3 linked regions of the Homo sapiens genome follow. The protein of the gene in region 3 interacts with the protein of the main gene of each other region in a biochemical or structural test. Each region holds a gene or a part of one and is shown on either strand. Other genes may lie near its edges.

Evidence for each region. The genes of interacting proteins can lie anywhere in the genome.
Region 1: the proteins of APLP1 (region 3) and CNTN5 form a complex in vitro, tested with the Homo sapiens proteins (one study listed by IntAct).
Region 2: the proteins of APLP1 (region 3) and CNTN3 form a complex in vitro, tested with the Homo sapiens proteins (one study listed by IntAct).

Annotation. Positions count from the first base shown.
Region 1 is NC_000011.10:99,016,798-99,023,952, reverse strand, and holds the start of CNTN5 (contactin-5 isoform 1 precursor), read right to left. Parts: upstream 3,005-7,155; 5' UTR 2,683-3,004; intron 1-2,682.
Region 2 is NC_000003.12:74,366,656-74,373,682, reverse strand, and holds part of CNTN3 (contactin-3 precursor), read left to right. Parts: intron 1-2,283; coding exon 2,284-2,487; intron 2,488-3,691; coding exon 3,692-3,794; intron 3,795-4,309; coding exon 4,310-4,494; intron 4,495-7,027. UniProt on the Homo sapiens protein: Contactins mediate cell surface interactions during nervous system development. Has some neurite outgrowth-promoting activity.
Region 3 is NC_000019.10:35,871,572-35,878,598, forward strand, and holds part of APLP1 (amyloid beta precursor like protein 1 isoform 1 precursor), read left to right. Parts: intron 1-40; coding exon 41-174; intron 175-286; coding exon 287-465; intron 466-911; coding exon 912-1,042; intron 1,043-2,067; coding exon 2,068-2,142; intron 2,143-2,932; coding exon 2,933-3,091; intron 3,092-3,169; coding exon 3,170-3,298; intron 3,299-4,945; coding exon 4,946-5,045; intron 5,046-6,146; coding exon 6,147-6,254; intron 6,255-6,510; coding exon 6,511-6,537; intron 6,538-7,012; coding exon 7,013-7,027. UniProt on the Homo sapiens protein: May play a role in postsynaptic function. The C-terminal gamma-secretase processed fragment, ALID1, activates transcription activation through APBB1 (Fe65) binding. Couples to JIP signal transduction through C-terminal binding.

The sequences.
Region 1 (7,155 bases), on a different chromosome or scaffold from region 3:
ATCTTGTGAGAAACATATTACTCTCTTACTTTATGCTTGGATTGTCAGAAAGAAGAAAGAGAGATAAAATCAACTCCTGGAGTCAGAATTTCAAGAAAACAAACTACATGAATGTATGAGTTTATTATTTAAAGTAAGAGAAATAAATTTCCAACGACTTGGTAAAAATTTAAAAACCCGTATTTTAAAAGAAAGTTCAAAGACAATAGGTAATCAAGATACATGAGAAAGAATGGATTCGGCAAATTACAATATTGTAAATATCTGAGCCTCATAAAATTCTGGATTAGTTTTTGACTGATGAAGGAGACACTAAACTCTGCTACAACTTTGTTTTAGCCAATCAAACTCTCTACAGTCAAATCATCTTCACAGTATTACAGCCATCTAGAGAAGTTTTCATCATTTTTATTTTAATCTTCACAAATTATGCCTTTATTTTGTCTAGAAGTAAGACAAACTCCAAAATGCTTTGGCCAGCCTATGCGGGCCCTTTGCCCTTTACTGGCACCCTCTGGTCCATATTGCTAAGTCAGCTGTGACAGACAATCACACTCCTACCTCTACCCTGAAAGTGGTCAAGATTTTCTAAACTGTGAAGTAAAAGAGACATTTAAAGAAATACATATCAGCCAAACCTGGTACATTTCTAACAGATAGCGCTACTTAATTGGACACATAAGATTGAAGTAAATTTTTACATGCTACTAATTTTAATGATTCATCTTACATAAACATATTCTATGTATAGATTCATGATTTGATTTCAGGTTGGCTCCCTGACTAAGAATTGTTTCAGACCACCTAATACTTGAAGTACTAACTGCTCACCTTGAGAAACATTCAGGTATTTCAGCTATTCATTTAAAAATTCCACAACTGTAGCTTTTTGGATGTATTTCCAAAAGCACCTTGGTGTGCATGTGCCTCACAACTTATAGACAAAGTCCGGCATTTAGTTAATCTATGGGATTATATTTTTATATAACTTTTAAGAATCTAACTTTCTGTTCAGTTGTCTATGGAATCAGAAAGAAATTAAAATTAGCAGTTTTTCTCCTCCTTTCTCAATTTTCAGAAGTTTTAAATAATTTAAAGGATACACCAATTCCTAAGCAAAAACACTGGCACTTGTAATAATCATTTCACTGACTTTCTATTTTCAGATAGGCTTTAATATCATTCCCTCACACTCCAGCTATTTGTCAAATTCTATTCTTTATATTGAATTTCCCTTTTTATAACTTTAACTCTGATTTTTTTTGCCTTTTTCCCTTTAATGGACTTAGATGATCTTTTTATGTAATATCTTTAATTTGTTATCATTAGTTTTATATGACATATTCTTACTCATACCTCTTTTCGATTAGAGTCAGAGTAAACTTATGCCTGTTAAGTTTAAGACTCAGCATACTAGTCCCCACTTAACTTAGAATAATTTGAGCATGAAATAGGAGAATATGCAAGCAACCATGAGAATTGCTCAAAATTGACTACAGGCATTTTCAAAAACAGTTAATGACCTAATCATTATTTTTTAAAATACTGAGAGTCACAATATTAATCATAATGAACTCCTTTAAGCTCCCTGTAATGGTCATAAGTACTTCTGTAATTCTGTTGCAATTCAACAGTAATCGATGATATCTGCATTAATTTTTAAATTTGACTATTTGTCTATAATTTTAAATGCTAGTATTCTAATGAACATCTACTTCTTTCATCCTTATTTCCACAGTCGTAATTGAGAATCAAAGTAGAAGTATTGACCCTCTAAATGATTTTCTCTTTTAAATTAAGAAACAAATGAATGAAATGTAGGTAAGGCATTGAACATACAACAGTTTAAAAGTTTTTTGCTTCTCACCTGCATTTAAATTACCACATGAAATTGTATTTTTCTTGGGAGAACAGTTCTAAGATTTAAAAGTAATATAATTCTAAAATATTTAGTGGATTCTGGTTCTTTCGCAAATAAATATAGTTGAAACAACTTATTGTTCAGGTCATCAGAGTAATTCTCAGGTTTGTGTATGTGCAAATTGATATTCTCTTCCGTATATCTCCCTACAAAACATGGTAAGGATGTCTGAACATAATTTTTTAATCTATCACAATCCTATACAACCTTTAGAAAAAAGCTCAGCATAATCCAAGATACAGTTTTTCTCAGTCTCACGAACTTTGTAGAACTCCACTTATAGAGCATCCCTACTGAATTTTAACAAGTTATTGCAATGCCAGATGCCCAATTATTTAGTCTCGGAAACTCATTGCTCAAACATAAGGCATACATTCAGTACCTGAGAACGGCATCCTATTTTCCAAACATTTAGTTTCTTTTGTAGAAACATCCTCACTTTATCCTGGCATTTATTGCCTTACAATTTGCAATTTGCGTGTAGGAATTGCTTACTCTTATTTTGGGTGGCATTAGGAGATATACAAATAGGTTATATTTACTCTTGTTTCAACTTTTTGCCATAAAATCCCAGCAGGAAATAAAGTCGTGTTTTGTTTCCTTTATTTAAAAAAGCTTCATCTTACAGTTTTTACATTCTGGCAACATGGCAAGAAAGGATGGCTTTGCAGAACAGAGTGTGTCAAAAATCCTAAGTGGCTGGGAGATGAAGTGCACAATCACAGAACGCAGTCACTGGCAAAGGAATGTCAGCCACTTACCAATAAGATGCCAGACTCCACTGTCCTTCCTCTGTGACTCTCAATTCCTGTCTCCCATCCTCCTGCCCATCAGCACAGTTCAGAGAGAGCGGTTCCTCGGGTCCTTTGCAGCCTGTGGCAGAGGCGAATTGCGGAGTTCTTAATCATTCAGAGGGAATCCTCCAGCTTGCCCTGCCTCTCGCAGCAGACGGGACCCAGGTAACGCATCCTCTCCGCCCCGAGCTTTAATGGCACTTTGGCTGCCGCCTTCTCGCAGTTCCGCTCCCCCACGCCGTAGTTGGTTATATTGGGAAGTAGGTGCGGCGCCTCCTGCGGCTGGTGTGTTTGGGGCTCGCGTGTTTTCCTCCAATGCGTCCGCGCGCCCTGCGCCCCGCGCCTCTGACTGGCTGTGTCCTCCCGGGGCGGCCCCTCGCCCCTCCCCGGCCGCCCGCGCTGTCACCGGCGCCCGCGTCCAGCGCCTCACTGCCTCTTGCTGCAAAGGTTCATTGAGCATGTCCCTGGGCTTAACGAACTGTGCGCCTCCCGGAGGGTGCTCTGTGTTTCTCCACTCGTCTCACTAGTCAACCGGCATTTTCCTTCCCTGCTAAGTACAGAGGACCTGCCCCCCTTCCCCGAGCGTTTCTGCTCTGCAACCCCTCCGTATTTAACATTCATAGATTACAAAGCAAACGTGCTGGCTGGAGTCGGCACGGGAGATCCAGGCGAGAGTCCCTTCCTCCGCTCCTGTCTTCACTCTGATTCCTGTAGTCCCCGGCTCACACCTCTGACAGCAGCAGCACAGACTGACGCGTTCACTTAGGTCGGTTTGAGAGTGGACTTTTTCACTTTGCAGAATTTTCTTAAGTCCTGAATGGGAAGCACTTCTCTTTTGTTTCTGCACTTACGCGTTTCATCTAAGGACTATCAGGCTCTGCCTGTTTATATTTCTCTTTGATTTGGGGTGTTGACTCAGTTCTAAAAAAAAGCGAAGGAATGGTCTCAGCAACCTTTTTTTCGGAATTTTTATATTACAATGGCTGTAATTGGAAAAATAACACAGGTAGTAAATCCACAGTGTGGCAGCTTTAGTGCCATTGTTCTGCCAGTCCTCCTCTCTACTTTTTTTTTTTTTTTCCTCTCAGTCTTTGAGTCGTTTTCCAATTCCCACGATTGGGCTGATGGTAATTGGGTATTTGTTAAATAAATTATATAACATTTCCTTTGCAATATATTTCCATAGAGAATGTGGTTTGCACCTGTATTTAATGGAAAGGAAATCCCACGTACTGCTTTCTATCTCTGTGTCTGTATAAGAAACTGCATGGGAGTCTAGGGTCGCACCCCGTGTCCGCTGGTGTCCGTTTTTCATGTGTGTTTGAGAGCAGCCTGACCCTGGACTGACGCTGATTCTTCTGCTCACTGAATCCCCCGATGGGGTCTGACTGGCTCTAATTGGCAAGGAGAGTACAGTGCCAGGCAGCCTGTAGCTGGAAGCCGTCTACCACTAGCCCTGTGTTCTTTCTCTTGCAGTTTTTCTGGTAATTAAAATTAGTCTTTTCCTGTTTCTTGGCTGCTTCTCATTCATCCAATGATGTACAAACACCCAGTCTCTGCTTTTAATCGCTATCCTCAGGATCTAGGCTGATTGCTTGTTCTGTAGCAAAGACAAATTTGTGTGCATTTAATACTTCTCCACTCTTCCATACTTTTTATATTCGTGTTCCTGCTTTCCAGTAACTAGGTTATCTTCTTTATGTGTTAACTGAGGGATCGTTGTGGAGATTCCCCTTCTGTGGCTTTTTCTCTGCCCCACTGGCTCTTCTCCTCTGTCAGGCTGTCGGTTCACAGAGAGAACTACCAGGACTTTTATAACCACATTAAATACATCACAAAATAAATTCAAAGTGTAGGAGCTCTAACGCATTCTTTTTATTGTTCGATGAGGTTTTTGCCTTTAAAAGTGTATAATTGAGCACATGCAGCCTGAAAGAGGGATCGGGAGTGTAGAAAGCTTTCTGAAAGTTCTCTTCCCTTCTTAGAACACCATTCTATATTACCCATGATCCGATAATTTGGGCATTTTGAGTCATTATGTCACATAATTTCTTTCAACTAGCTTTGCCCTAGAAAGGATGTAAGTTGGCTTATAAAAATCTATTCAGTTTAAAAAAATGAATAAAAAATGTAGGTCAGTGAGATCAAGACAAACGGTAAAGTGATAGGAGGAGAGATAAGATGAAGCCAGAAATGAGGTTTATAGAGAAAACTGCATTGATGTTTTTGTTACAAATGGTGCTAGGTCTGCCATTAACTTTGTTAGCAGCCAATGTAAAGAAGGAAATGCTATCGGTCACATGATTCATGGTGCCCTCCTACCATTAACATGAACAAGAAAATTTACCTTTTACATGATGTAAATGGACTAAATATTTCTCCTTTCTTAAGCAAGAACTAAATAAAAGCTTTTAATGTTTCTACTTTTTATAAAGAGAGCAATATTATCACAAGACTATGGTGTGAATATATTTTTGAAACAAGTAGATAATGTAATAGCACTTTTCCTTGCGAAGTTATCTGATGCTTTAGAGGGAGAGAAAGGAAACGTTGAATCTGTTTAATTAAAAATAGTAAGGTCTATTTCTGTCAGTTCAAATTTAAAATGTTGACTTCAATCATTATTTGGGGGTGACTAGGTTACCTGGCTACACTTCATTCAGGACCCAGAAAGAGTGACTATATTTATTCTCATGTCTTTTATGACTTTTAATGTTCTAATTTGTAATAATATACAATTATATATTCCCTATTAATATCTATATATGTAACAGACAAACTGTTAGTCTATCTGACTCATCTTTCTTTAGAATTTTGCTGTTATGGAGTTAACTTATGTACTGTATATTTTTACAATTTTCTGCTTGGAGAGTAAGGGCTCTATAGATCAGGTACACTTCTGTATCCTTTTATATCCACAGTGTTCAGGTTTAAGCAGGTCAATGTCTGGAATTAGAGAAACAACAGTGCTTAAAATAAGAAACAAACAAACAAAACTCCTTGTTAGAGTTCCACTAAAAAGAAACAAACTACCTTGTGTTTTCCAAGTAAACATCAAATCTTTTCACATACCATGACCAAGATTTTCTACTATTGACATGTGAGAATGGGATTTTAAGTTATAGTTGTTTTGATGTAAGATTTGTCTTTAAAAGATATAAAAGTATGTATGCCCCATTATTAAATTCCAATGCTGTTTTCTTAATAAAATGGCATTATTAAAAGATCACTGGTTTTCTCTGTTTGATGCTAATGACATTTTTGAATTAACCAGCTCATCCTGTACCCTGGTAAAATATCATTTGTACATTAAGTTAATTAAAACATTGTTTGTAAGTGGGGTAAGTGGTTCAGTAGGTCACTTTCTCTATGCTATGGTTATGACACCTCAACCTAGCTGTCATGTTGCTGATCTGATCTTGTTGTCTAGCCATCTTTGTGTAAATGTCTTAATCTCTTTATCTCATCGTCCCCAATGGGCAAGCAAGCAGATGCAGCACATCTGTAGCAGTTGAGGTGCCTCTGAGCTTTTGTCTTATTTGTGTAACAGATTTTTATTGAAATCATGCCCTCCTTTCTCTTTCCCTTCATTTGACTCAGATAAGTTCTAGGTTCTAGTTAACAGATCATAACTATTATTATGTTCCATCAAATCATAGCATAACTGTAGGGAAGCAGACCAATGGTGAATTCATGTCTAGATCAGTCATCTTTCTTGGATCATCTGCCTTGCCTACTGGAGCTTCTTTTAGCATTTGCATTTTCTGTTTTGATGTTTTAATCCTCTATGTTAATGTGTTACCAATAATGGTGAATGGGTAAGTACTAAGATAAAAATTAAAGGAATCAAAATCTTGCATTTTCAATATATGCCAGTATTCCCTATAAGTGCAAAGTAACACATGAAGAAGCAAAAGTAAACTTTTACTTGAACTGGACAAAATATGATTTTAATTATATTTTGAGTTTCTTAGAAGATGTGTCTCAGTACTCATATCACAGCTGTTTTGTGAAAGCAGAAGTAAACATATCTTAATCAGACTTGGAAAATATACCAACTTAATTAATTTAACAGCTGCTTCAGTAAACAACGCTAAAGAACATAGTCTACTTTGTGGATGTCTTGATAACATCGGCAACCAAAACCATTAAGAAGTATGAGAGAGGAGCTCTAATTCAACTGTGGTGGTCAAGCTTTTGGTGGTCACAGTACCAACTCTTACTTACAGAAGCTGCAAATATCTAATCTCCTGTAGGTGGAATTTATGCTCACCCTTTGTGACATTTTGGTCCAACTATTTATGCAAACCATAAACATTTGCAGTTAATTAAGATTTTAGAAAATAGAAGTAAAAGTTGAAATCTTACTAATTTAAAGGTAAAGTTTACTTAGTTTTCATCCAGTAGATTCCTTTAGATATGCATTTCTATTTTTTTTTC
Region 2 (7,027 bases), on a different chromosome or scaffold from region 3:
GAACATTTTCAATCAGAATTATATTTGTGATATTTATTCCAAGTGTTGCATGGAGTTATTGTTCATATATTCTTATTACTGTATAATATTATCTTGCATGAATTCACCAGATTTTAGGTTTTCTGACTCTGAGTCAGAGTTCTTTTTCTCAACCATTCTTTTTGGTATAAACTGGGTTAATAGGATTGACTTTTTATTCCTAATGCCCTGCTAAGGCCTGCTATATTGGAGAACAGTAGATATCTGGCTGGGTAAAAGGGAGAAGGACAACCTTGTTAGTTTCATGTGTGGAACACTTTGGAAAGCAGAGAAAGATTGCTTTCCCTCCTTTACTGCAAAGTGAGGTTGCCGGAGCAGCAGGAAGACCCTGAAGGGCTCTTGCTACAACAGCTGCCAGTTTTAACAACTGCAGAACAAACTCAACCTACCTTGCTAGTATTATTTTCCTCTATGGTTTATTCAATACTATTGCAAGAGAAAAGCATCATCAGGATAGGCCTGAGAATAACCATAATGTTTGAGATGCATTTGTTTCATACAACCCGATAAGTGACTTTAGAGCTCACAACTTATCACATGACTGACTGAAATTTCATGAAACATTATACCAATATGACAGCATGATTTAAAGATCAGTTTGAGGTTAAAACCAATGTTTCTGGATGTCTGTATAATTTGCAATTGGCTTGCTAATTTTTGGAAACATCAAGCATTTGCATTTGCATCGTGAATGGGAATTAGTCATCATGTTTTATTTCTTCTAGGTCCTTAGCATGTTCTCTTCTCTGCTGGCCTTTTCTCATGTTCTTCACTCTACTTGGAGTGCTTTTATCCCTGCTTGTTGGGGTGTTCTCCTGTCCTTTAAGGCCTGTTCTTCAGCCATGAAAGAATGGCACCTGTCCTTCCTCTAAAACTCATGGGAGCTCTCATCTAACCCTTCTCCTTATCTCATTGTTATTTGCATATTGATTTACTGTTCCCTTTACCAAAAAGAAAGACCTTCACCATAGGAATTATCTCTTAAATATATTTAAACTTGTTATTCATTAAATTTATTTTGATTCCATGTTTTCCAAAAGTTTTTTTTTTTTTAAACTCTATTGGGAAAGCACTACAGTAATGAATCAATACAGTAGAGTTAATGCAACTAAGAGAAAATAGGGCTCAGGAAAGCAGGAAGCCAATAAGCCAACCACAGTAACCGTGCTTAAATCTCAACTTGGCACTGAACAACCTGGGCCTCCAGAACAAAGTGGCATATTATTATCTAGCCCTCATTATCATAAAAGAGAAGAACAATGGTTCCTTTGCAGAAAACTGATTCACCTTGGCCATAAAGTTCAAGAAAACTCTCATACTGTACTTTACATAGATGTTAGTCAGTAGCATAATTGTATCCTTAACTAACTCCATGAATCTTTATTGAGGCCCTACTAAGTGCCTTTGAGTGTTTCATTTTGCTAATTTGGAGGAGGGGGAAGGGCAGGTGAAATAAAAACTAACATCGCTTGTTTAACAAGTGATAGGAGGACAGACAAGTAAGCAGAATGTTACATACTGATAAGCGTTTTAGTTGAAATAAGCTTAGAATTACTCTGTATAGGAGCATCAACCCAGAGAAGGAGGATTAAAGGAGAGTTCACTTGAGGAGGTGATTCCTGATGTTGGAACCAAGCTTTGAAAACCATTTGAAGGTTATCTCAAAGAATGTGGTTGGTGTTGAAAGTAGAGAAAGCCAAAGACAGGACAGAGACAACAGGAGTTGTAGGCCCCAGAAGCAGCACGTGCAAAAGACTCAGGGACAAAAGAGAGCATGGGGCTTCTCCGAGGCTAAGGTTTTGAGCAGGACCTTAACCATGAAGGGCCTCATATTCAGGTTAAGCAATTTTGCATGATGCCTGAGAGGTTAAAGAACTTCGCCAAGTTTGATGTCAGGAATTGACATGATTAGATTGTTAATTTTGAAATATCATGGTAGAGGCAGGATGGAGATATGAACTAAAACTGAGCAAGACCAGAGAAGCTTGTTAGAAGGTGTCTGAAGCAGAGATATTATGACAGTAATAATATTGCTCCCACCAGGATGCTAATCAACGGTGTCCTCTATAATAATAAAGAATAAATTGAGAGTTATTTCACTTAACTGCTTCTCTTCATGGCCTGCAACAAAAACACTCAGCACTACTTGGAAGTAAAGTTGATGTTTGTATAGATACATTAAGGACACAATGGAAAACTGTCCTTAATGATGGAATTTCTTTCTCTCTTCAACAATTTTATTAGAACTGTCATATGCTTGGATCTTCAATGAATACCCATCGTTTGTTGAAGAAGATAGTCGGAGATTTGTCTCCCAGGAGACAGGGCACCTCTACATATCTAAGGTGGAGCCGTCTGATGTGGGAAATTACACATGTGTGGTGACAAGTATGGTGACAAATGCCCGAGTGCTGGGCTCTCCAACTCCTTTGGTGCTACGTTCTGATGGTAATGAAACTTCTCCAAGTGCACTTCTGAGCGTAAATGGTGCTGAGGCTGCAAACAAAAGCAATTGGGAAAATGTAAAAAGTACATCTAGAAGAATTGTCACTTCATGTTTTTTGGCACAGACTATTTTATGAGTACAATGACAAAAATGATTTGATAACTCATAGTCCTTATGCATAATTCTTACCCCGGGCAAGCTTCATAATTTGCAGGGACCAGTGCAAAGTAAAAATGAGTGGCCCCTTTTTCAAAAATCATTAAGAATTTTAAGACAGCAATGGCAAAGACTTATACCAAGCATGAGACCCTTCTGAGCCCGGGGCTCGGGTTGCACTCCCATGAAGTCACCTGTCCTGACTTTTGCCAGCTTGAGGTTTTTAAAGCTCTGGATATTTTGTTATAGGCTAAAAATCATCACTAAAGAAACCATTAAAGAAAAATATCTGTTTCATCAACACCTTGATGGCTGTTTAAGGGGAGTCTATGAGCTGCCGAGGAAGCAGATCCGTAAGCCTGGGTAGTTGACCCATTTACACAAAACCATATCTGATACAGCATAATGCTATGACCACAAAGCATTGAAGCACTTTTTTCCAGTCAGTTATAATTGAATTTGACCTTTCCCATTTATTAAGTCATTGTTTCTTAACTCCAGGGAGCCATTTAATAAGTTTAAGATTGGTATCTCTGCTACTAGGGTATCATTAAGTAAATTCCCTGCCATAATTTTTGTTCTTTAGGGAAATTTCAGGAAGCAATAATATATTATATATTTCAGTTTGACTAGCAATGTCAAAATTGAATACACAATTTCAAAGCCTCCCATTTTGTGTAATGTAAAGGCTCAGTGGTTTTCTTGGAACTGCTCTGTACGTGGTAACCTATGAATCAGCAAATCCAAAGTTCTTAAATGTTTATTAATATTGCATGTTTGACCCAAGTTAGTTCAGGTTTTTTAAAGCTCTGGATGTTTTGTTAGAGGCTAAAAAGCACCACTAAAAAAATTATTAAAGAAAAAATCTGTTTCATCAACAACTTGATGGCTGTTAAAAGGGAATCTGAGCTGCATAGACTAAATTTTATTTAATTGAAATCACTAGAAGAGCTGGTTCAAAATGGGAGCAAAAGAAAGTTTTATTTAAGAAAAACGAGGCAATTCTAAAGGAAATATTGAAACGATTAACTTTATATTGTGGATTTATAGGTGTGATGGGTGAATATGAACCTAAAATAGAAGTTCAGTTTCCAGAAACTCTTCCAGCAGCTAAAGGTTCGACTGTGAAATTGGAATGTTTTGCCCTTGGAAAGTAAGTTTTATAACATTTACTCCTATGTGCTGAAATATTAGGTTGCTATAAGAAATCAGGATGGTTTTTGAGAGACTCTTCTTTTTTATTTTCTAAAATTTACTTTCATTTTGAGGCAAAGGAAAAACAAAATGCAGGGGAAATGCACATATAAAATTGAGTTTGAAACTTTAATATTCAAAGTCGATTTGAAGAAAATTACTCTGCCTGCCGAATTTCATAAAATAAATTGGTGGGTTTTTTTTTTTCTTGTTCATTTGCTGTAATCTAATATGGTGGGTCTGTATTAGGCTTTTTTCTCGAAATCATGTCAAGAAAAATGCAGTTTATTTTATTAAAATATCAACTTAAAGAGTTAAGTTAAATCTTTTTTATCAGGTTTATATAATTGACCATTGAAAGTGGTTTTCTGCATTTAAAATCCTGTGCCTTCTTGTTCAATCTTAAAAGCTTTATTTTCTCAAGTTGAAAAGGCTTCCAGACAATAGCAGACAACTTGACGATTTTCTTCTTAGTCCCATACCTCAGATTAATTGGAGAAGAAGTGATGGGCTGCCATTTTCCAGCAAAATTAAATTAAGGAAGTTCAGTGGTGTGCTTGAAATCCCCAACTTCCAACAGGAAGATGCAGGTTCCTATGAATGCATTGCTGAGAATTCACGAGGAAAAAATGTTGCCAGAGGGCGTCTCACTTACTATGGTGAGCATCTGCTTTGGGCAAATTGGAGTTTTAGCTTTTACTTTCTCATCTATAAAATATGGTTGTTATTTAGGGGTGAGAGATTATAGCAGAATCCCAATGTTCAACTTGTTGGTTAAACATTTTGTTAAGTGATGATAAACATTGATCATAGGGGGAATTAAAAAGAAATAAATTTTTGTAATGAAGTTGGCGACATAATATATTCATTTTGCATTTTAAAATGATTCATGCAAAGATAAAATATTTCATATTTTTTTCCTAAGAATAACCTCTCACACACTTAAACACATTAGAGAGAGATCTCTTTTCTGTCTGTCTTCTCCTCTAGAAAACAGGTTTTGTATCTTTCTTTGTTACCTCTACTAAAGAGAAAAAAAAAAAACTGCCTTTTGGGAAAAGTTGCAATTACTGTATTAAACAAACCACGTGAACTCTGGCTCTTGTTGAGTTCTTCAGTGTTATTCTATCCCTTCCAATAATGTATCTGTACTCTGTTTGCTGCCTTTAATTTGCAATCACTTTTATTTGATGTACTGCTCAATTTGGGTAAGGAAGGAATAATAATGTCACCTTTATTTAGAGTCTATTTGTAGGAAAATTAGATTGCCTTTTTTTGAAATTTTTTTCAAACCTCTTATTTTAAGAAAACTAGGTTTTTGATGAAAACATGACTTAGAATAAATATATAATTTTTCAAAACGGATTTATAAAATATATGGAGACGTATATATTCAGCTCAGTGAATATATATTTGCACTTTAATCATTAGAAACATCGCAAAACTAGTGGGAATTGACCACTCTTGTCAAAGGTAAATTGCATTATATTCTATTTATTTTAGAATTTGGAAATTGAAACATCTTGCAACACGTCCTTGGATAGCATATGTGCATGTTGCAAGGAAGAAAAGTTTGCAAAGGCAAATACTAAAATTGTAGGTCTTATGACACCCCGCCTTGAAAAATATGAAGTCTACCAGTGCATTACTTCTGGCACGATTAACACTTGTTATTATATTGTAAGATTTTAGGATCTGTCAGAAACAAAATGGAGGCATTGTTTGGTAGCATGAGTCATTCTGTTTTGTAACTCTCCCATCTTGTTGCTTGATTAGTTTAGAATGTATATAGCACAGAACTTACCCAGGTTTCAAGGTCTTTGGGTTCCTAGGATTCTATGGAAATAGGGGGTGAGGGAGCAAGCACTTAACCCATGTGGCTGTCCAGCTCTAAGGCCCCAACAAAGCAAGTAACCTTTTCTCATACTCTAGCTTAGTTCCTTCTTTCTGCGCAACCACTACTTGATCTAGGATAAGAAGTGACCATTATGGGAACACACCGGATATTCCAACTGTATTAATGTTTTAGTAGAAATATTTTTAGCTCTATATAACAGAAACCCTGTATACATAATAAACAATTGTATGCTTCATATGATGAGGAAATCCAAAGCTAAATTGTCATTTAATTACCTTATCATCAGGCCACGACCCAGTTTCTTTGTGATTACTTTTTCTGCCCTTGTCTATTTTTTTTTTCCTTTTCTGCATGTTAGTTTCCATTATGATCACAAAATGGCTGCCAGCAGTGACTAGCACATCAGTTGTTACTCATCCTTCCTTTCTCCAAAACATCTAGAAGTCCTCTCCTCAAACCTCACTGGCTACATGGTTCATTCCTAAACCAATCAGTGGCAAGGAGAAATTAGATTAGACAATTAAGTGCTTCACTTTGGAACAGAGAATAATGTCATGTTTCTATAGACAATGTGAGGTGATGGAAGAGTGGACAACTGAATTAAAAATTGGTGTTATTTTAGGAATAAGGAAGAGAGGAAATGAATGCACAATAGAAAACCAACAGTGTCTGCTCTACTTAGTAAAAGAGGTAGACTATTGCTTTAGTCCATTGTGTAGGTAATATGATACATACCTAAAAAATAAATCAGAAATTAATGGCATAAAGCATTTCATGAAAGTTGCCTTACAATTTCTATTTAACATCAATATATTAAGTAGAGGCCATGCAGTTCTCTGGTTATCTGCTCTAATATTTCATGTAAAAAATAGTCTATAGAATATTTGCATCTCATATGATGGAATAAAGGGAGAAATCAGAATTGATGTGGCAGTTATGATTTCAGGATTTTTTAGTCCAGCGAATTATCCTCCCATTTGGAGAAGAAGAGTATTACTATGGGAAGCTTGTGGGATTTTTTTTTTTTTTTTAGAAACTCGGGTCTCTATAAGAGGCTGATGTGTGAGTCTATTCACAGTCATGTTCCATCTCAGGCTGATCATTCCTGAAAGAAGAAGAAAATGTGTTTTAATATAGAGAGAAGTGATTTGGTACTGAACTACACTTCATACTGAGCAAGTTATATATATATATATATATATATATATACACACACACACACACACACACGCACACACACATAAAAGAGAAAACTTAGATGAATACATTATCTGTAAAAGCTAAATAACCATAGTTTCTTTTCAGTTTCATTTATAAAAAAGTAATTTTATGAG
Region 3 (7,027 bases):
CATCCCACAATCCTGGCATCTGGGCCCACTCTTCCTACAGGCCTGCAGCTCCCAGGGCCTCATCCTGCACGGCTCGGGCATGCTCTTACCCTGTGGCTCGGATCGGTTCCGTGGTGTGGAGTATGTGTGCTGTCCCCCTCCAGGGACCCCCGACCCATCTGGGACAGCAGTTGGGTGAGTGGGAGGGAACCCTCCATGCCCATCTCAAGGTTCCTGAGGCAGGGGATGGAAGCCTGGGAGCCCAGGCCTGGGTTCTTACTGCCTGGGTCCTCTCCTGCTCCCTCAGTGACCCCTCCACCCGGTCCTGGCCCCCGGGGAGCAGAGTAGAGGGGGCTGAGGACGAGGAAGAGGAGGAATCCTTCCCACAGCCAGTAGATGATTACTTCGTGGAGCCTCCGCAGGCTGAAGAGGAAGAGGAAACGGTCCCACCCCCAAGCTCCCATACACTTGCAGTGGTCGGCAAAGGTGAGGCAGTCTCTGAACCCCTGGGGCCTCTCCACCATAGAGGGAGAAAGATCTGGGGGAGTCTTGCTGGGGGGTGTCTTTGGGAGGGGCCTATAGGGGAAAGGCCCAACTGAGGAGAAAAGACGAGAGTATCTTTGGATAAAATAGAAGTAGAAGGGCTAACCTGCCAAGGGAGGGGGTGGTTTGGGGGTACTTGGGAGTAGAGGGGCCATTGGGTAGGTCTTGAGGATCATTTCAGGAAAGCTTGGAAGATGGTGTAATGGATTCCTAAGCTTTGCAAGAACAGGCCCAGTCCAGAACTACATCTCCCATAATGCCAGGCAGCAGCGGTGGCTAAACTGGGTGCATGATGGTCTCCAGTGCACTCTAGGAAATGTGGTTCTCTAGGTAGAAAAGGCGACCTGGAGGTGGGCTGCAGACTGACCTCCTGATCCCTGGTCTTGCAGTCACTCCCACCCCGAGGCCCACAGACGGTGTGGATATTTACTTTGGCATGCCTGGGGAAATCAGTGAGCACGAGGGGTTCCTGAGGGCCAAGATGGACCTGGAGGAGCGTAGGATGCGCCAGATTAATGAGGTGATAATACTGGGGGCCCCAGGACCCCCTACAGTACAGAGCTCCCTAAATACCAGGAAATTCCTCCAGGACACATTGATACTACCTCCAAAGGCTCCCTAAGCCCCTTTGACCTTGAGCTCTCAACACCACCCCCTAAGATGGCCAGAGATCCATGGCCCTTCTAGAATCCCACTGAGACGCTACCAGGTTCTCTGGAAACTCTGGTCTATGGTACTCTTTCACTTTATTGGTTTTTTTTTTTTTCTTTTGTTGTTGTTGTTGTGACGGAGTTTCGCTCTTAACACCCAGGCTGGAGTGCAATGGTGCGATCTCGGCCCACTGCAACCTCTGCCTCCCGGGCTCCAGCGATTCCCCTTCCTCAGTCTCCTGAGTAGCTGGGATTACAGGCACCCACCACCACGCCCGGCTAATTTTTGTATTTTTAGTAGAGACAGGGTTTCACCATGTTGGCCAGGATGGTCTTGAACTCCCGGCGGGAGGAGATCCACCCGCCTCGGCCTCCCAAAGTGCTGGGATTACAGGCATGAGCCACCACGCCTGGCCTCTCTTTCACTTTAAACTCCTTCTGGATCTTCCCTCTTGGGAACCCAGGAGCCAGCGAGACTTAAGGGATCTGGGGCCTTTAAATCTTTTTTTTTTTTTTTTTTTGAGACAGAGTTTCGCTCTGTTGCCCAGGCTAGAGTGCAGTGACGTGATCTCCCACTCACTGCAAGCTCCACCTCCTGGGTTCACGCCATTCTCCTGCCTCAGCCTCCCGAGTAGCTGGGACTACTGGTACCCACCACAGCGCCCAGATAATTTTTTCTGTTTTCAGTAGAGACAGGGTTTCACCATGTTAGCCAGGATGGCCTCAATCTCCTGACCTTGTGATCCACCCACCTCGGCCTCCCAAAGTGCTGGGATTACAGGCATGAGCCACTGCGCCCAGCCATGGGGCTTCTAAAATCTTAAAGAGGGGTTGGGGGACTTGCCAGGTGGATCAGGGTGGATTCTGGGATCCTGAAGCTCCCCTCCCTATGCAGGTGATGCGTGAATGGGCCATGGCAGACAACCAGTCCAAGAACCTGCCTAAAGCCGACAGACAGGCCCTGAATGAGGTAGGACAGCCCCAGTGGGTCCTACTCATGCCTGTCCACCACCTGGAGCACACTCAGTTTCACCTGGCTCTGGCTGTGCCCTGCCCATCCAGTTCCACCCCTTCCCACCTATCTCAGCCTTTCCTGGCCCCATGCCTACATGCAGCTCTGCCCCTCTTAGCCGTCATCTGACCTGACACTGCTCTCCTCCCCAGATTGGCCATATTCGGCCCCATCTACAGACTTGACTTGCCTCTCAGGGCTGGCTCTGGAGTCCTGTCCCAAGCCAGGGCCTCTGCAGATGCAGCCAGGGCCTTCTTGGTCTCTCTTTGATGCATTTATGTCTCTATCAGGCCCCGCCCCCTGATTCTGGCTCTGCTGGGCCAATCTCACCTTTATTAACCTGACCTACCCCATGGAGACCCCACTCATGTTAGCCCCCATTCCAGCTCTTTGTCCCACCCCTATCGTGTCATTTATACACAGCCTGTCTCCAGTTTGACCCTGCCCAGGCCAGGAGCCCTGCAAGGCTTTGTCCCTTTCACCTTAACATTGGTCAGTTCTGCTCCCAGATTGCTCCCACTCAATCTTACAGTTTACATCCTCACATTGGCTCCCAGTGGGCCTAGTCCCACCTCCACTCTGCCTGGCCCTGTAGCCCACCCCTTCCAGTCCATAACCTTTGGTTCTGCCCAGGCCTGGACCCCTGGAACGCCCCCCAACCCCATGTAGCCCTGCCTTTCCAGGCTCTCTTTGACCAGGCTTTGACCCATCTTCTCCTCTCCTGACCCTGTGCCCACCCGCTCCCCAGCACTTCCAGTCCATTCTGCAGACTCTGGAGGAGCAGGTGTCTGGTGAGCGACAGCGCCTGGTGGAAACCCACGCCACCCGCGTCATCGCCCTTATCAACGACCAGCGCCGGGCTGCCTTGGAGGGCTTCCTGGCAGCCCTGCAGGCAGATCCGCCTCAGGTGCGGGGACCGTGGGGGCAGAGAGCAGAGGGTGAGAAGGGTCAGGGCGGGCTTGGGCATCCTGTGTCCCTTCCACAGGCGGAGCGTGTCCTGTTGGCCCTGCGGCGCTACCTGCGTGCGGAGCAGAAGGAACAGAGGCACACGCTGCGCCACTACCAGCATGTGGCCGCCGTGGATCCCGAGAAGGCACAGCAGATGCGCTTCCAGGTGCTCACATCCTTCCAGCTCCCAAATGCGCCGCTATTCCTCAGACGCCCGCGCCTCAGGCTCTTCTCTTGTCCCTTAGACCCTCTTTCTGTCTCTTGGACCCCTTCCTATCCCCTGAACACCGCTTCTCTGCCCCTTCCCAGTCTCTCAGCTCAGCTTCCTGACCCTGAAACATGGACCCTCACATGCTGTGTCTTTGACCCCTGCTTCTTGGCCCTTGGATTCCTACTCCCCCCGCCGTCGATCCTATGTTCTGTCCCTTGGATTTTCACTGCCTTTCCCAGAATCGTCTTTTTTTTTTTTTTTTTTTTGAGACAGGTTCTTGCTCTGTCGCCCAGGCAGGAGAGCAGTGTGCGATCTTGGCTCATTGCAACTTCCACCTCCTGGGTTCAAGCAATTCTCCTGCCTCAGCCTCTCGAGTAGCTGGGATTACAGGAGCCTGCCACCACACTGGGCTAATTTTTTTTTTTTTTTTTGACAGAGTCTCGCTCTGTTTCCCAGGCTGGAGTGCAGTGACATGATCTGGGCTCACTGCAACCTCCGCCTACTGGGTTCAAGCTATTCTCCTGCCTCAGCCTCCTGAGTAGCTGGGACTACAGGCGGGTGTCACCACATCTGGCTGATTTTTGTATTTTTAGTAGAGACAGGGTTTCACCATACTGGTCAGGCTGGTCTTGAACTCGACCTCAGGTGATCCACCCTTGGCCTCCTAAAGTACTCGGATTACAGGTGTGAGCCACCACGCCCGGCCCCAGCTAATTTTTGTATTTTTGGTAGACACGGGTTTCAGCATGTTGGCCAGGCTGGTCTTGAACTCCTGACCTCAGGTGATCTGCCTGCCTTGGCCTCCCAAAGTGCTGGGATTACAGGCGTGAGCCACCATGCCCAGCCAGAAACCCCAATAACTTTTGCACCAATCTAATATTTTTAGCAGAGACAGGGTTTTGCCATGTTGCCCAGGCTGGTCTCGAACTCCTGACCTCAGGTGATCTGCCCACCTCGGCCTCCCAAAGTGCTGGGATTACAGGCGTGAGCCACCATGCCCGGCCAGAAACCCCAATAACTTGCACCAATCTAATATTTTTAGCAGAGACAGGGTTTTGCCATGTTGCCCAGGCTAGTCTCAAACTCCTGACCTCAGGTGATCTGCCTACCTCGGCCTCCCAAAGTGCTGGGATTACAGGCATGAGCCACCGCGCCCGGTCGAGAATCTCCTTCTTGTTCCTTGAACCCTCTTCCTGTCCCTCAACCTCCTTTCTCCATAACTTCACTTGTTTTCCCTGGAACCCCTGTTCTGTGCGCTCAAATTTGAATTCCCCTTTCCTGGATGTTTTCTTCCTGTCTATGAAACTCCATTCTGTGCTCTTGAACTCCAAATCTTGCCTTGAACCATGTCATTTCTATATGACCCTCCAATCCTCAATCTCTGTCTCTGGAATCCCCTCAAACCCCACTTTCTGTTCCTTGGACTTTATTCTTCAATTTCCTTCTCCTATGGCCCAGTTCCTAACCCTTGTACCACACATCCTGTCCATTGCATGTGCCGCTTTTCCTCAGTCGCTATTGAATTCCTCCTTCATACTGCTTCAGTTTCCTCATCTCCAGCCTGCATTGCGCAGTTCATCCTTCATGTCCACTCACCCACAGGTGCATACCCACCTTCAAGTGATTGAGGAGAGGGTGAATCAGAGCCTGGGCCTGCTTGACCAGAACCCCCACCTGGCTCAGGAGCTGCGGCCCCAAATCCGTGAGTGTCTATTACCCTGGCTCCCATTACAGATCTCTGAGGGCAGATCTTGACTCCTAAATGTTGGGCCCCCCCAATTTCATTTATTCCTCTATAACAAACAGCCCAGACCTTAGCAGTGAAAATCAACAATGATTTTTCTTTGTTCATGATTCTGCCATCCGGTCTGCGCTCAGCAGAGTGGTTCTTTCAGTGGTCTTGCCAGTGGTCAAGCATGCAGCTGTATTTAGCTAGCAGATCATCTAGGGGCTGGGAGTCTAGCACAAATGGACCTTTCTCTCTCTCCAAGGAAGCGCAAGGCCTCTCTTCTCCGTGGAGCTTCTCCATGTGGTCTCATCAGCAGGGTAGCTAGATTCCCTACATGGTGGTTTATGCTCTCTAAGACATCACAGTGGAAGTTGCTAGGTCTTAAGGCTTGGGCCCACATTCTATTTGTTAAAGCAAGTTACAAATTCAGTCCAGATTCAAGGGAAGGAACCTATATGCATACCGGAAAGTGTGACCTATTGCAGCCCCCACATCTATTGTGTCTTTCTCCTGGATATCTCACACATAACCCTGATTCTCCTAGTATTTAAGAAAGCTATCATCTTGAGGCGCGGTGGCTCACGCCTATAATCCCAGCACTTTAGGAGGCCGAGGCGGGTGGATCACTTGAGGTCAGGAGTTCGAGACCAGCCTGGCCAACATGGTGAAACCCCGTCTTTACTAAAAATACAAAAATCAGCCGGGCATGATGTCGCTTGCCTGTAATCCCAGCTACTTAGGAGGCTGAGGCAAGAGAATTGCTTGAACCCGGGAGGTGGAGGTTGCAGTGAGCTGAGATCGCATCATTGCACTCCAGCTGGGCAACAAGAGTGAGACTCTGTCTCAAAAAAAAAAAAACAAAAAAAAAACATAATCTTGAAACTTCAGCCTCCATCCTTCCTGCCAGCAGTGCCTCCATCCAGCTTCCCACTTTCTCAGATCACACTTCTGGCTACCCCACACTTGGGGCTGACTCTGCTGTCTGCATGATCTCCCACTTGCTCTACTGGTAGGGTGCCCTCCACTCACCCCTATGCTCACTACCTCAGCCACCTTTCTGCATGTCCCCCTCAGAGGAACTCCTCCACTCTGAACACCTGGGTCCCAGTGAATTGGAAGCCCCTGCCCCTGGGGGCAGCAGCGAGGACAAGGGTGGGCTGCAGCCTCCAGATTCCAAGGATGGTGAGTGAGCCCACATATAGATGACCCCAGACATTAGGGAACAGGCCCCAGCCTAATTTGTAATCCCCTAGAGTCTGAGGGTGTCTTCACCACCACAGTGACTGGGAGAGGATGAGGAGGAACGTCTAAGGTTGCAGGGGCCTCTGTAGGATCCCCAATCCTCCTTCTTAGTCCCTGGAAGGATGTTTCTCCACCTTTCTTTGCTGATACCCTCCTCTCTTCACTGTTCCACTCCCTTGCTTCCTCTGGCTGCCAGCAGACACCCCCATGACCCTTCCAAAAGGTGAGTGTCTCACAGTTAACCCCAGCCTCCAAATCCCACTGAATCCCTGAACCCAGAAGGAAACAGGGTCCATCCATTGGGAACCTCAGACCCCCTGGGGTAGAGTTTGATGTACTTTCCAGCCCCCTCCTCTGGACCCTAAAGAATGAGATAGGGCCAGGCGCTGGTGACTCACACCCGTAATCCTAGCACTTTCAGAGGCTGAGGCAGGAGGATCCCTTGAGGCCACGAGTTCTAGACCAGCCTGGGCAACATAATGAGACCCTGTACCTACAAATAATTTAAAAATTACCTGGGTGTGGTGGGGCATGTCTGTAGTCCCAGCTGCTCAGGAGGCTGACGTAGAAGGATCACTGGAGCCCAGGAAGTTGAGGCTGCAGTGAGCTGAGATCATGCCACTGCACTCCAGCCTGGGTGACAGAGTGAGACTCTGTCTAAAGAAAAAAAAAAAGAATGAGATCAGACTTGGGGGTAGGGTCCACAGAACAAG